Regions from separate parts of the Homo sapiens genome. Here region 2 is linked to region 1. The links come from fine-mapping of genetic effects on gene expression. Tissue or cell type: testis. Region 1 holds a variant in brackets; the other region holds the start of a gene. All regions are shown on one strand. Distances are from middle to middle.

The links. PIP is the estimated chance that this variant, and not a neighbour inherited with it, causes the effect.
Region 2: CFAP161 starts here. The variant in region 1 is fine-mapped to the expression of CFAP161 in testis (GTEx, PIP 0.97).

What each region holds. Positions count from the first base shown.
Region 1 is chr15:81,489,453-81,497,559 of GRCh38, forward strand. No RefSeq gene overlaps it. Among named protein-coding and RNA genes, the nearest start is that of TMC3, 120 kb to the left of the region's middle. The variant T/C (reference allele first, on the strand shown) is at 4,651.
Region 2 is chr15:81,130,544-81,138,650 of GRCh38, forward strand. CFAP161 (cilia and flagella associated protein 161) reads left to right here and starts at 3,727. Exons shown (of 7, transcript NM_173528.4): 1 at 3,727-3,855; 2 at 4,727-4,816; 3 at 5,973-6,205; 4 at 7,508-7,592. The coding sequence starts at 3,787.

The DNA of each region.
Region 1 (8,107 bases):
AAATGGTAGGACTTACCCTGCTGGATGTTAAAATTTATTACCAAACTTCGAAAAATCTGAACAACTACAAGCCAGCACCAGAATCAACTGATCAGAATAAAAATTATAAAAATTAGACTAGCACCTGTATGTGTGTTTATGTGCAAATCTCCAAAAATGCTAAAAATGGAATTTCATATTGATAGGGGCAACGATGGATTAGTCAAAAAGTAACATCAGGACAATTGCATAAGGAGAGAATTAATCAAGATCTCTCTTCAAACTTAAAACAAAAAAAGACAAAAATGTTAAAATTAAAAGTAGAATTAAGACAAAAACATAAAACATAGGTGAATTTATATAATTCTGAGGTAGGGAAGGCCTACCTTCTAAGCCTGGCACTAACAGCAGAAATTACAAACAAAATAGTTAATAGATTTGTATTTCGTAAACATGTAAAGAACCATAAAGTAATTTTTAAAACAATTGAAAAAAATAAGAAGTATATTTGTAAAAGACATGTCAGGCAAAGATTTAGTACACACAATATGCTAAAAGCTTCTACAATTAATAAGGAAAATATAAAATATTGACAAACTATCAGCTTGCAAATGAAAACAAATTTCTTTCATATTTTAAGAAATAAAACATTTATATTTTCTCTTTGTCATATTTGTTGCTGTAAATGTATAGTCAACTATTTTAATTCTCCTTTAATTTTTCATTGTTTCTTATGTAAAATATTTTTGTCCTAGAGGTATAATTCATTGAGCTTTAACTTTGTGACTTCAATTTTTTCTAGAAATTTGATGATCAATTAGATTTTCTGGGAACTTTTGACAATATTTGTTTTCTATAGTTTCTATAATTTGATTTTTATAATTTAACTCTTTAATATATTTGTAATTTATTTTGTATGCTATAAGATGTGGAGCTAATTTTATTTAACATTTAATGGTTCTAAAATAATGCATTAGATGTTTATTCTTTTCCTAATTTTTATATTATATAATGATAGACATTCATTTATGTATTCAACACCAATTATTGAGAATTTTGGTGGGCTGTGTGGTTGCTTTGTTAGCATAACAATTTTAATTGTTATAGCTTTAAAACATTTTTATATCTAGTAGTACTATCAACCTCAAGGGTAACTCCTTTTACATTTTTTAGTATATCTATATTCACTCTGTTTTCCTAAATCAATTTTGTGAATTTCCAAAAGGTCTTGCTATAGAAGTATTATAGATGTGAGTATAGATGAAAGTGTAGATGCATATTCATAGCTGGAGCATATTTGTTAAATGGATGGATAATTTGGTGCGGAGAAATAGGTTAAAATTCAAAGAACATAAGGCAAAACTTATTTGATGATGTTCCAGTTAGCATCATGGGCACACCAGATGGATCAGCCTTGGAGATAATGCATACAATATCTTCTGATCAGGAGAGAAGGAACTGAGGAAGTGGGGTGTATTAGTCCATTCTCATGTTGCTGCAAAGCTACTACCTGAGACTGGGTAACTTATAAAAGAAATAGATTTAATTGACTCACAGTTCAGCATGGCTGGGGAGGCCTCCAGAAACTCACAATCATGGCAGAAAGGGAAACAAACACGTTCTTCTTCACAGGGCGGCAGGAAGGAGGATGAATGAGTACCCAGTGAAGGGGGAAGCCCCTTATAAAACCATCAGATATCATGAGAACTAACTCACTATCACGAGAACAGGATGAGGGTAGCCGCCCATGATTTGATTTTTCTCCACCTGGTCCCTCCCACGACATGTGGGGATTACGGGAACTACAATTCAAGATGAGATTTTGGTGGGGACGCAGGCAAACCATATCAGGGGGAAACAGACCTGTGGTTGCCAGAGGAGGCCACCTCTGAGAAGGCATCCTTCCCAGAGAACGAAGATGCTCAGCAGAATGCAGAAGAAACTGGTTCCAATGGAAAGATTGTCAAAGAAAATGGTGTCACAAAAGGGAACTTTTGCAGAGATCTGTTGGGGGAAGAAATAGGAAGGAAAGAGCAATCTCTTTGCAAAGAATGCACACCTGAAATGATCTGGCAAGTGCACGGTGGTATTAGAGAGAAGGTGGAGATTATCCCACAGGGAGGTATGACCTCGATTTTATGGTTATATAACATTTCAATAATGCATGTGCATGCTGCACTCTAAGAACAAACATTCCTTATCTCCAATGTAAACCTAGAGTGCTGGTTACTGCACACCATCTTTTGGGTATATCTTGGCTTAATGAACATGCCCCTAGGAAAGATGTAGGGTAAATGCTGAGATTGCCACAGGCGACTTTCTTCTCACTAGGAGTGGAATTCTATGAGCAAAAGTAGAGAAAAAAAGGAGGTCAGGAAAAAGTGGAGAATAAGGGAAGGTGACAACAAGCTCTGAGCTTCTCTTCTAGAGCTCTGTTCTGAGACATGATCTCATGCGTTTTCGTAATATTCTTATAAGATGAGTAAGAAGCAGTTATCACCACCTGAACTTGACAGAGAGGAGAGTGGTTCCATAGAGATTAGAATCCCTCTCTTAAGAGGTGGCAATTTGTTAATATAATCGGGAATATAACAAGGTGGTTTAGTAGCCTCCTGGGTCTACACAGTCTTAAAGAGAGGTGTTGTTATTTTTAAATAAAATGGACTATCATCATTGACACAAGACAGTGAGATATTTTACTAATTTAATTGATTTTCTTGCTCTCACTGAATCGAATTAATTTATTTGCACATGTTGACAGAGACCCAGAAAAAAAGCTGTAACCATCAGTCAGCACAGCCTCATTTCAGGATGAAAAGTGGTTTCAGCTCATGGCTCAGTGCCTGGGAAGGAAATGTGAATCCCCGCTCAGAGGAAGGTGTGCTTCATCCAGCAGCAGGAGCTGCTTTGGGGCTTATTATTCAAATTTGGCAGAATGGAGGATGGTCTGGCAAAGGGGCCAGGTTTATAGATGAAAGAGCCTATGGTCAAGTGATTGGAGATGGGAGAATTTGCTGTGTTTTGGGCAGAAAGTCTGGCTGCAGCCTCCCCTCGGCACCTTGCCCATTGGAACAATGATGGAGATCCGCCAAGAGGATCACAGCAGACTGGCTTGCTCATACAGCCTGGCTTACGGGTGTGCACTACAGAACATTCACCCTGATCTCAATAGTGGAGCATGTGGTGGTGGGGGTGCTGAGAAAGCCCACATCAATACCTTTATTAAGGCTCTTAGCACTTCTGCAGCTGAACAACATTTAACATGTACATACTCCTAACATTCAATACATTCAATTTGGAAATGTAACCTTTGGTGATGGAGGAGAATGTGAGTCTCTTTATCACCACCCCCAAAATCCAAGGGCTCTAGTGTCAGGGACTGGCAGATTTCCCAAAGCATTGGAATTTTTCCCCCTCAAAGAAAAGCACAGCTGAGATTTTAACTATATGTTAGCTGGGGAGTCTAAATTAAATGGAGAAGGTTTGAGTGTTTTGAAGAAAGGATAAGTTTTCCTTTATTTTCTTTTTCCTTTCATATTTTTTCACCAGCAGCACTGATGTGGCACTCAGCTATTTGGCAAGCCAAACTGCCCCCCTGAGGTGATAGTTACCAAGGTGCTTTGCCCATAATTGCCACCCGATAAAGGCTTGACTGGTTGATCATTTAATTACATGCTGTGTATTTCTTGACTTTCTTCCAGAATCAAGCAGATTTATAGCAGACCCAACACCACAGTAGGTCAACATTAGGGGCTAATCAATTCTAGTATTTGTGCAGTGCTGTTCTCTTAACAAAGCGTACTCGTTCTCATCTAATTCCTTATTCCACACATGACGACTCTGGAGACCATTAATCAGGGCTCAACAGACTTGATCTGTAAAGGTCCAGATTGTAAATACTTTAGGCTTGTGGGCCAAATACTCTCTGTTTCAACAACTCAGCTCTACCACTGTCATGTGAAAGCAGCCCTAGACAATAGGTAAATGAATGGCTGTGACTGTGTTCCAATAAAACTTTATTTATAAAAACAGGTATTGAGCTAGCTTTGACCATGAGCCATAGTGTGCCCTGGAGTCACTGATAACCTGACATTGCCCATTAAAGATCGAATGCCCAATGAAACTATATCTTGTTTCTTTAATTCCGCCTACACCATAACTCATTTTTAAAGGATTTTTTCTTTTTTTACTTCTAGTTTTAGATTCAACTGTAATAGTTCATAATAATCAATGTTTGGTAACAACGGTGACTCCAACCTCACTCTGTCTAGATCTAGATTGTTACCCTACCAAAGTCCTTGCCCGTTGTGCTGGTAGAAGTGAGTCATTCAAGAAATAAACTAAAGAAGGAGCAGCATGGCTCAGAGTCCCTAAGCCAAATGCTGTTGTTAAGGACTGTGAATAGTGCAGGGTCTGCCTGCAGAGCCCCACGTGTGCCTGTGCTGTGCCTGTTGGACACCTTAGCACCCCTCCTCACATATAACCCTGCCAGACAGTCACTTGCTCTCCTTTCATTTTAGAGATGAGCAAACCCAGGCCGAGAGCAGTTAAAAGAGCTCCTCGAGGTCACCCACAAGGTCATGTGCAGTTGCTCAAGGCCCCATCCTCCGAAGGGGACCCCACATGATTGTATTAATGCTCTGCTATTGCCATTTCAAATTCTTAATAAAT[T/C]TTGAACAAAGGGGTCTGTATTTCCACTGGGTTCTGCAAATCGTATTCTGTTTCCTTGCTACACAGCTGATAAGAGTGGAGCTGGGATTCAAACCCAACTCTGTCAGGCCTTTCCTTAACTCTGTGTTCTTCTCACCATTGACCCCCAAGTGATTGCATTGAGGGAAGATTTTGTTATCACCGGCTCAGCTTCACTTGGGTGATATATTTGCCGGGGCCAGACAGAGATGTGCTCAAGGGACCAAATCCATTTGACCCATATCAAACATACAAAACTCAGCACAAAATATTGTTTAATCATGTGATCCAAAAGATCACAAGAAAGTAATTTACATTTGTAAGGTATGTTGACTTTCATTATCTAACATAATCCCTCTCATTTCCCTATAAGTGGATGTTACTATCTCAAGTTTCAAGTGAAGAAACTGAGGCCCAGAAAAAGTTAAATAACTTGCAAAAGGGAGACAGCCAATCCAGCTGCATATCCAATTTTTCTCTCTTGAAGTGAAAAGAATCCCTTTTTCCAGGTCTCACCTCAATATCCAGGTTTGTAAGTGATTCCTGGAATGGGATATAATTATTTCCAGGTATGCAGACTCACACTAAACGTCTGCCAATAAACAGTTAAAGAAAAGAGAAAAGTGTGCCATTTCCTTCTAAAAAAGAGCCCTGCCTCCCCCTTCATTTGTTAGGGTAGATGATGTGGCTTTCCGTCCATTGAGTGTCTCTAGGAAAGACTCAACTAGAAAAGCTCTGTGTGTACTCCAAAGGAGATGTTAAGTGGGGACCCCATAAAACTTAAGTAGAAGCAGGCATTTTTCCTGGAAAATACTCACTCTGATGTGGCCGTACATTATGTTTTACAGTGCTGCCTCAGCAACAGCAAAAAGAAAAGCCTGCTGCCCCCAGATTCATGGCATGGATTTGCAACCCATCAATCATGGGGAAAAATTATTTCAATAAAGCCCTCTCCACAAGTTGAAGCAAGGCTACGGTGCACTTGAGGAGTCTATAATCCAGAAACCACAGCTAGCCAACTTGTGAAAAGTAAATTCTAGGTGTTAAATATGACAGCTTCCTCCTCCCTGGGGTTCTGAGGCATTCAGATGAATTCACCAAGAATATTGGGACTGCAGGGACCACGATGTGGGAGCCCCAGCTCTACCACTTACTCGCAGTGCAATCTGAAACAAGTTACCGTTTATTGTGTTGCTTCAATTTCTTCAACTAAAACAATGCTGATCATAACAATCTCATACATTTGCTGTAGGGATAAAATAGACAATAGTAATATTTGAAAGCAAAGCATAAACATTCTTTAAAAAACCTGGAGAGTAAACTGTAATAACATAACATAAATGTTGGTATTGCATTTGAGTTTCCAAACCCTGAAGGTGATCACATTAAGACTGCAGGATTACCTGCAAAAAAAAAAAAATACAGTATAGAATTAAGGAACTCAGGGTCCAAGCAAGAAAGCTATGGCACAGCCCAGAAGAGGCAACTGAAGAGAGTTTAATGAAGGGCCTATTTACAAGGGAGTGAGTAGGTTGTAGAGACCAAAGGAAGGGTAATATAAATGCCTTTGGGTTTTCAGCTGCCTGGAAGGTTCTCTTCCAGAACCTGCAGAGAGCTACTGCTAGAGGATAGGACCTTAGGCAGAACACAGCCTGTGCCAGATTATGGGATGAGGAGGATGGAAATTAACACTTGTACTCTCCTCACTCTCCTCTCACCATCTCCTGTCAGTGCCTCCCATAGGCTGAAACCAACTGGAAGCCACAGGGCAAGGGAAGCCTTGGGTGCAGTTTCTAAGAGTCTGTCTGTGGGGCAGAAAACCGGGTGGAGAAGGGTGGAGAGTTGACTTGAAGAAGCACATAGAGAACATCTGGCACAAGGGACATTAAAAAGCAGTGACTCCCATGTTTGGCTAATTCTTCAATTTCAATGGGGATTAATATACATACTATATACATACATCCATGCAGCCTTGTACTTCGATATGCTAATTTTGAGAGCTGGCCTGAGGTTCCCCAGGTGATCTTGATGATCTTACAGATGTGGAAACACAAAAAGACGTTCATTGAGAGTGTTTCCATCCCCGGCATGCAATAGATGTGCAACCACACATGTGCTGCAAGAATCTGATCTCTTGAAGTGCTTGCCCGACTGCCTCCCACCCAGTTCAAAACAACCAATGCTGATTGCACAGCTGCAACGCGCAAAGCACTGTAATTAGTTTTTCTGCATGGAATTTGCTTTCCAACCCCTGCAAATATATATATATGTAAAAGATAGGGTCCACGGTACTCAAAGTTCTTTCATTTAGTAAGAATAAAGATTTTGTAAGAGTAAAATAATTTTATGAAACTTCAAAGCAGTAATAGGGGAAATGGTGTAAGAGATTACTTTGTAAGTGCAAAGTAGGACAAATTTCACTGCTGGAGAGGGATAAGAGGAAGACTTATTCACAGCAACTGGGTAGAATAGGTGACTCCTCACTATCCCCATTTCACAGATTGGCATGGTAAGGCCCAGCAGTGGCTGCATTGTGACTTTCATGGACCCTCCTCCATAAAAAAAATTTAAGATTATATTTTAGAATTACATTGGTAGAAAGACAAATATAATCCAGGCTGAATTATATTCACTTTTTTCTTTTGATTAAAAAAATGTAAAGCATTTGTGTGGGCTGCTAAAAGTATCATGGGCCTTAAGCACCACGCCTGCTGTGCCGAATGGAGAAGTCAGCCCTGAGCATTAGGTGACGTACCTCCACACACACACAGCCGGGAAGCAAAATTCTCATCAGCTGTCAGGCTCTAGAGCTATGGCTGCACCTTAGGAGAAGCTGGGTTGCTCCCTCAAATCCCCACTCTCAGCTGGCACCCAGACAAGTTAAGTCAGAATTTCTGAGTATGGGGACAAGGCACCAGACATCAGAGGTCCCAGGTGATCCCAATGGGTAGACAAGGTTGACAGCCATGCTTGAAAGTCCTCTGTCCCACGCTTCTTCCTTCTTAAGGGAGCACAGAAGAGACTCATTTTCATATCCACCAGATGATCTCTCCTGTGACTAAGGTGAGGGTGCATATTTTATATCAATGCATACACTTCCATCATCTGCCCTTGCTATTCTCTACAGCTTTTTCTTCCCTTCTCAGGCTCTCACAACAGGGCTCCTCCCTGTCCTGGAAGAGATTTCGTGTGTTCCTGCCTTAGCTCACATGGTTTCCTAATGTGTAATTCTCCTCTCCACCTACCTGGACTCAAATCCAGCCCTACCGCAGCAGGCCTTCTGTGCCTTCTCCAGGTGATGGATGCCTCTGAACCCGTGCACAGTCGGCCTGCTCTCAGAGCCAGGCTCAGAGAGGGCCAGCTGGCAGCAGTGCCCTGGGCTTTCCAGGAGGCTGGGCAGTGGCTCAGGGAGGCAGCACTGGCGTCTGCTTTAGGACTG
Region 2 (8,107 bases), 360 kb before region 1:
CAAAAAATTAGCTGGGTGTGGTGGCATGCGCCTGTAGTCTCAGCTACTTGGGAGGCTGAGGCAGGAGAATCGCTTGAACCTGGGAGGTGGAGGTTGTAGTGAGCCAAGATCGTGCCACTGCACTCCAGCCTGGGCAACAGAGCGAGACTCCATCTCAAAAACAAAAACAAAAACAAAACAGAGACAGACATTTGGCTCTTCCTTTCACTTGAACACTTGAACACTTAGTGGCCATTTTAGGGTTATTAATTGTCCTAATTTATATATTGTTGTGTCTCAGGGACTGGGAAGGCCTGAGGAGAGGGAGAGAGATGGGGACATGGCTGGTAGGTGGAGCAGTCAGAACACCTAACATTTATTGATTGGATTTGCTATCTTATATGCCCATGGTTCATGGTGCCCCAAACAACTACAATGGCAACATCAAAAATCACTGATCACAGATCACCATAATAGATATAATAATAAGGAAGTTTGAAATATCTTGAGCATTACCAAAATGTGACACAGAGACGTGAAGTGAGCGTATGCTGTTGGAAAAATGGCTCCAACACACTTGCCTGATGCAGGCTTGCCAAAAACCTTCAATTTGTAAAAAAAAAAAAAAAAAAAGAATCAATATCTGCAAAGTGCAATAAAGTGAATTGCAATAAAATGATGTATTCCTGTATCTAAAATGTCTAGTTTTCAACAAAAAATCATGAGACCTGCAAAGAAACAGAAAACTGTGATCCACAGACAGAAAGAAGATAAAAAACAAACAAACAAAAAAGTCAACAGAAACTGCCTTTGACAGAGCCCAGATGTTGGACTTAGCAGACAAAGACTTCAAAGCAGCCATTATAAATATGTTCAAAAAACTAAGGGATACCATGATTAAAGAATTAAAGGAAGGTATGATGATAGTGTTTCATTATGAAATATAAAATATCAATAGAGAGAAATTATAAAATATAACCGAATGTAAATTCTGTAGTTGAAAAGTACCATAACCAAAATAAAAAACTCACTAGCGGAATACAGCAGTAAGTTTGAGCCAGCAAAACAAAAATTTGCAAACTTGAAGACAAATCAATAGAAATTATGCAATCTGAAGAACAGAGAGAAAAAAATGAAGAAAAACAAATAGCATCTTGGAGGAATGCAGGATATCAGTAAGTGCATCAATATACACATGATGGGAGTTTCATAAAGACAGAAGACAGACAAAGGATCAGAAAAAATATTCCAAACAATAAGGCCTGAAAATTCCCCAAATTTGATGAAAAGAGCATTAATTTACATATTCAGGCAGCTCAAGCAGGATAAAAGAAAAGAGGTCAATATCCAAATATATCTAGTTAAAATATTAAAGACAAAGACAAAAAAAATCTTGAAAGCAGCAAGAGTATGTGTAAGGGAAGCAAAATAAGATTAATAGCTGATTTCTCATCAGAAATAATGGAGGCCATGGCTGGGCAGGGTGGCTTATGCCTGTAATCCCAGCACTTTGGAAGGCTGAGGAGGGCCGATCACTTGAGGTCAGGAGTTCAAGACCAGCCTGGCCAACCTGGTAAAACCCCATCTCTACTAAAAATACAAAAATTACCCAGGCATGGTGGCACATGCCTTTAGCCCCAGGTACTCAGGAGGCTGAGGCATGAGAATTGCTTGAACCTGGGAAGCAGAGGTTGCAGTGAGCCGAGATTGTGCTGCTGTACTCCAGCCAGGTTGATAGAGTGAGACTCTGTCTTGGAAGAAAAAGAAATAAGGGAGTCCAGAGGTAGTAGGATGGCATATTTAAAATATTGAAAGAAAGAAAAAAACGCTATCAACAAAGAATCATGTATCCAGAAAAAGCATCTTATTAAGGTAAGCAAAAACCAAGAGAATGTGTTGCTAGCAGACCTGATTTATAAGAAATATGGAAGGAAGTTATTCAGGTTGAAAACAACACAAAGCAGTAATTTGTGTTCATAGAAAAATACCATAGAGCACCAATAAAGATATTTCTTCTCCTGAGTGATTTAAAGCAATTGTATAAAACACTATGTATAATTGTATTATTGGGTCTATTATATATAGAAATGTAATATACTTGTCAAAAATAGCACTAAGGAAGTAGGTGGGAGCAAAGCTGTATCAGTGTAAGGACTTACTGAATGACCCAATCATTAGAACCTTGTTAAAAATGTAGAGACTAGAGCTGCTTTGTTTTATTCTTGATTTTATGAGGAATATGAAAAATACTTAAAAGGAAAAACAAACAAACATGACTTTGGAGTCGGAAAGTTTGGACTGAGTCCTTTCTTTGAGCAACTTTTAGCAGTTTGAATTTAGACTGCTAGCTTCTTTGAGTCTCAGTTTCTGAATTTATCAAATGCAGTTAGTGGTATACTATCTGATCTAACTGCTTTGTCCTATGTGTCCTTCAGAAGTATCCTCGAATGTGGTGATATATTGACAGAGCTGGTGGATTCATCAGAATGTGGGAATGTTCCTATTTTTATTCTACACTTCAGCCTGCCAGTTCAAATCCTTCCCAGTTCAGCTCCAAAGCAGCCCCTCTCCCATCACTCAAAGGCCATCCAATTCCCATTCTCACAGTTCCTCAAGACAGAAAGGATCCTTCAACTCCATGGCCCTTCATCAGCATATATATATATATATATATATATATATATATATATATATATATATATGTATTTTTTTTTAAATTGGAGATGGGGTCTCACTATGTTGCCCAGGCTGGTCTAGAACTCCTGGGCTCAAGTGATCCTCCTGCCTCGGCTTCCCAAAGTGCTGGATTATAGGCTTGAGCCACCACGCCAGCCCATCAGCACATCTTTAATTGCATTTTTCCACAGTCTTCCTTAAGTAATTCGTTTTCATGAACTATCTTTTCTTTTAGACTGGGTTTGCTGAAGGGAGCGGAGGCTCCTGTCTTCCATTTCAGTCATGTCTTACTAGACACTAAATAGAGGTAAATTACTGAATGCATTCAATCTGCATCAAGCCTCCGGTAGTCCTACAGTAACTGGTATCCCTCCCCTCCCCAGAAAATAATATTTTGTTTTATTAATGCTGGCTACAGCAGAGTCTGGTTTTCTTAAGAGTTCCTGCAAATCACAGGTTCGTCCTTTAACTTTGAGACCCAGGGAAGGAGGGAGCAAGGGAGGGAGGGAGGGAGGATGCTGTCAAGTCCGCAAAAATATGGACAACCTCAGAAACCTATAAACAGAAATATACTAACATGGTATATTTCTTACTTTTAAGGCCCTGAAATTATTAATTTTCCTTTCTTCTTTCTATGCGATTTTGGTTTCCAAATGTGTACATTGAGCAGGTATTGTTTTATGATTAGGGCGAAATTGCTGCTGCTGCTGCTGCTGCTGCTGCTGCTGATTACAAAAAATAGGCTGCAAGCAAGCCGTGCTTCCATTTAAAAGCTCCTCTTTGTTGCCTCGACAAGCAAGGGGTACTCGATAGCACTTTTCGGTTAGATTCTAATAGAAAGAAAGCTTTAAATTTCTCTCTCGGAAGCACTTTGTCAGCCAGGGTTTTCCCTCTCGCCCACCCTGCAGTTAAGGAAATCTAAGAGGTGGAAGTGGGGCGGGCTGGAGGGCCACAGACAGCCGCTGACCCAGACGCCCCATCTCCCGCCCCAGGGCGAGGGTGCGCGCTGTCGCTTATTGGCCAGCAGGGTCCCAGACCTTGACCAATCGCCTGGGGCCGGGTCGTCATGGCGACGCGCCACGCTAACGCATGGTGTCGGAGGGAGGCCCACTTGCTGAACAGCAGGGAGCGATGGCGCAGAACGTGTATGGTCCGGGAGTCCGGATAGGCAACTGGAATGAGGATGTCTACCTGGAGGAGGTACGCAGGGTGTGGCCAGGCGCAGACCCGCAGCTCAGGAACTCCCAGACCCTGCTCTAAGTTCAGTCTCCTACTTTGAGCGCCTCAAGCCTCCTCTCTCTCCCAGCATACAGCGAATACCTCTAAAATCCCCCACTTCTCTAAACTCCCAAGGAATCTCACCTGCCGAACTGCAAACCCAGGTCTCACTGACCTCTACTCCGAGCACCCTGACTTTTCTTTCTCTGGGTCCCTTGGCCTCCCAAAGTCAGATGCCTTGACTCTCAAGCCCCTGGCCTGTGTCTCCCGCTTAGTCTAGAGCCCCACTAAGTCCCCCGTATTCCTTAGAGTCTTACAGTCTCAGGCTGCGGGCCAGGTGAGGACACAGGTTCTAGGTAGAAATAATATCCCTCCCCACTCCAACCCTGCCACGCTTGCCCTCTTAAATGACCCTGAGTATTCCTTTTATTGACGTTGTACTCACTCACTGCCTCGTATTCTCCCAAGGGTGGTCTTAACAAGGCTTTGAGCCATTCGTATACGGGTCAGATTGGGGAGGGGTGAACTTTCTAGTGTCAGTCATCATACGGTCAAGGGAAACCCCAGCAGGGGAGACATGGCCTCCAAATGTCATTTAGGATGGTATCTGGCTGGAGTAATTACTGGTGATGTTTCTTTTTCTTTGTTTTGCCTTTCTCATTTTTCTAAACATTCTATAATGTAGTAAAAATATTAAAGTAGTGCTAAAAACGTTCCATCATTCCAATTATGCTCACATCTCTTTTTTTGTACTCAAATTTTGCTTTTTCAACTTGGAAGAGCTTCTGACCTAAAAGTTATTAATACTAACATCTATATTATTCAGGGCTACTTTTGTTGATTTTCTGTTTAGGAGCTCATGAAAGACTTCTTAGAGAAGAGAGACAAGGGGAAACTTCTCATACAGAGAAGTAGAAGACTAAAACAGAATCTCTTGAGACCGGTAACTTTTTTTTTTTTTATTACACTTTAAGTTTTAGGGTACATGTGCACAACGTGCAGGTTTGTTACATATGTATACATATGCTATGTTGGTGTGCTGCACCCATTAACTCGTCATTTAACATTAGGTATATCTCCTAATGCTATCCCTCTCCCCTCCCCCCACCCCACAACAGGCCCCAGTGTGCGATGTTCCCCTTCCTGTGTCCATGTGTTCTCCATTGTTCAATTCCCACCTATGAGTGAGAATATGCGGTGTTTGGTTTTCTGTCCCTGCGATAGTTTGCTCAGAATGATGGTTTCCAGCTTCATCCATGTCCCTACAAAGGACATGAACTCATCATTTTTTATGGCTGCATAGTATTCCATGGTGTATATGTGCCACATTTTCTTAATCCAGTCTATCGTTGTTGGACATTTAGGTTGGTTCCAAGTCTTTGCTATTGTGAATAGTGCCGCAGTTGGTGGGACTGTAAACTAGTTCAACCATTGTGGAAGTCAGTGTGGCAATTCCTCAGGGATCTAGAACTAGAAATACCATTTGACCCAGACATCCCATTACTGGGTATATACCCAAAGGATTATAAAACATGCTGCTATAAAGACACATGCACACGTATGTTTATTGAGACCGGTAACTTTAAATTCAGACATTGTTTTCAAAATTCTGTTGAACTTGGTGTGAGTATATGTTAAGCAAGAAAAAAATTTCATAACTGAGTTACCATTTGGAAAATAACAGTTTTTAAAAACAATTTGCAATGTTTTAAATTCTTCTAAGATTTTAGAAACATAAACAGTCTGCCCTAAATCATGTTTACCTGCATTTTACAAATAAAGAAATAAATGAGTTAATATGTAAATAAGTAAAATGCCCCTTAGTTGGTAATCGACAAATTTTTCAATGAATGTTGAATTTCTAGGATAATGAGTAAATCCATGTGATTTTAACCAGCTTTATTCGACTTCATTTGGAATTATTGGGAGCTTTGCCTTGGCAAAGGGGAAGGGAAAGGAAGAAGGAACTAAGGGTTCGAGGGAATCCAAGTGAAATCCTGAATGAAATGGGTACTAGTCCGAGAAGGAAGAAAATTGCCTTGGCAGTAACTGTTGAGGAATTGCATGGTTTATGTAATAAACTACTATCAAAATTGTAGATGCAACTTTCCGTAACTGAAGATGGCTATATTCATTACGGTGACAAAGTGATGCTTGTGAATCCTGATGATCCTGACACAGAAGCTGATGTGTTTCTGCGTGGGGACCTGAGCCTGTGTATGACTCCAGATGAAATTCAGTCCCATCTGAAAGACGAATTAGAGGTACCCTGTGGCCTGAGCGCAGTTCAAGCCAAGACCCCAATTGGCAGAAACACTTTTATCATTTTGAGGTAAAGAGACTTTAATTTTCAGTTCATTTTCATCATAAATATGTTTCACTTGTAGCTTAAAGATTCCTGGGTATTGGAGCCACTGAGTGGAGGGAAAGGTTTTGTGAACATTTTTCGTGATTTTCATCTTGCTTTGCTTACCTTGAGAATTATTGTCAAAGGAACTTTACAATCCCTTTTTACCTTAGACAGCAGGATAATTGTGTTCAATTCAAAATGCTTAAATCATGAGTATAGGATCCAGGGAATTAAATCCATATTCTGCCTGGAAGCAAAGTAGGTTTTCCCTATAACATTTTGGAACTTTTTGAGCTCATTTGAGTGTTTTCATTGTTCTTAATACGGCTATTTTTTTTTTTACAATAAAAACGTGTAGTTTAATACAATGTGGCACTAGATGGGATTTTCTCTTTTAAAATTAACTGTCCATTAAAAATGTATTTGAAGAGATTTTGAAAATGAACAATTAAATCCTTAGAGAAGAAATAGATACATGATCACAATTAAAAACTATTACTAATTCGTATGACAGCAATGTAAGCATTGCAAGAATATATGGACCCAGGCAAGGTACAGTGGCTCATGCCTGTAATCCCAATACTTTGGGAAGTCAAGGCAGGCAGATCACCTGAGGTCTGGAGTTCGAGACCAGCCTGGCCAACATGTCGAAACCCCATCTCTACAAAAAATACAAAAAATTAGCTGGGCGTGGTGGCAGGCTCCTGTAATTCCAGCTACTTGTGTCACTGAAGCATGAGAATCACTTGAACCTGGGAGGTGGAGGTTGCAGTGAGCCAAGATTGCACCACTGAACTCCAGCCTGGGGGAAAAAAAAGAATATATAGACAGTTCTTCAAGTTCTAATTTAGATTTCCTTTGAATACATATGTTAAGACAAGTAAAAATTGATCACAACCTCTGTTATCCTGAAGGATTAAGAGGGAACCGTATTAAATGTCTACAAATGTGTTACCTTGGTTCTCTCTGAACATGTCAATGCACTTGACCAGAATTCCTTAGTATACATTAGCAAGATGTGCTTAGTTTACTCTAACCAGAGGCTCACAAAGTGGGGATGCTTTGTGTGCTAGCTATGGTGCAGGGCAGGGAGTAGGGTGCTAGCTGGATTTTAAGACCAAAAGAAAACACCTTTTATTTAATTACCTAATTCAGTTACAGTATGTGAATATAAATTATCAAAAAACTGATTATAAACAAAATTGCATGCATAAAAAATAGAGTCATAGAATGATTCTAATACAGAGAGTTTACATTTACATTATACTTATTGTCCACTGACAGTGTACACAGAGATGCCACTGGTCAAGTCCTTAGATATGGGCAGGACTTTTGCCTGGGGATAACAGGAGGATTTGACAACAAAATGGTGAGTTATCACTTTGCATATCTACTTTGGATCAGTCATTTCTGTTGCCCAAAATGGGATCATAACTATCTACTGAAGTGGACAGAGAACTCCAGAGTCATGGGCTCCACCTCTGACTTCACTATGGTGTCAGCTTGCAGCTTTTCACAGGCAGTTTTGGGCCAAGCCAGTCTTTCCTTTTAACTTCCCAAATTACAAAAACTACACCCTTAAAACCTAAACAGTAAGGGAGGAAAACCATTTCACAATGCAGCTGGCAAAAAGCAAAAGTTTATACCACTTCCACCTGTAAATTAAATGATTGAATTCATTAATAACCATCTGATACCTGTCAAATGTTGCCAATGCTAGCAAGGCATATTATCTGACAACTTTTTTATTTAAACTTTTGATGATCAGACTTTTGCTTAGTATGGGAGTAGGGACAATATGAGATGCTTAAATTTGCATAAATCAGGGAGCCTTGGGGATTAGGAAGTATAATAGAACCAGATAGATTTGGGTTTGAATTTCAG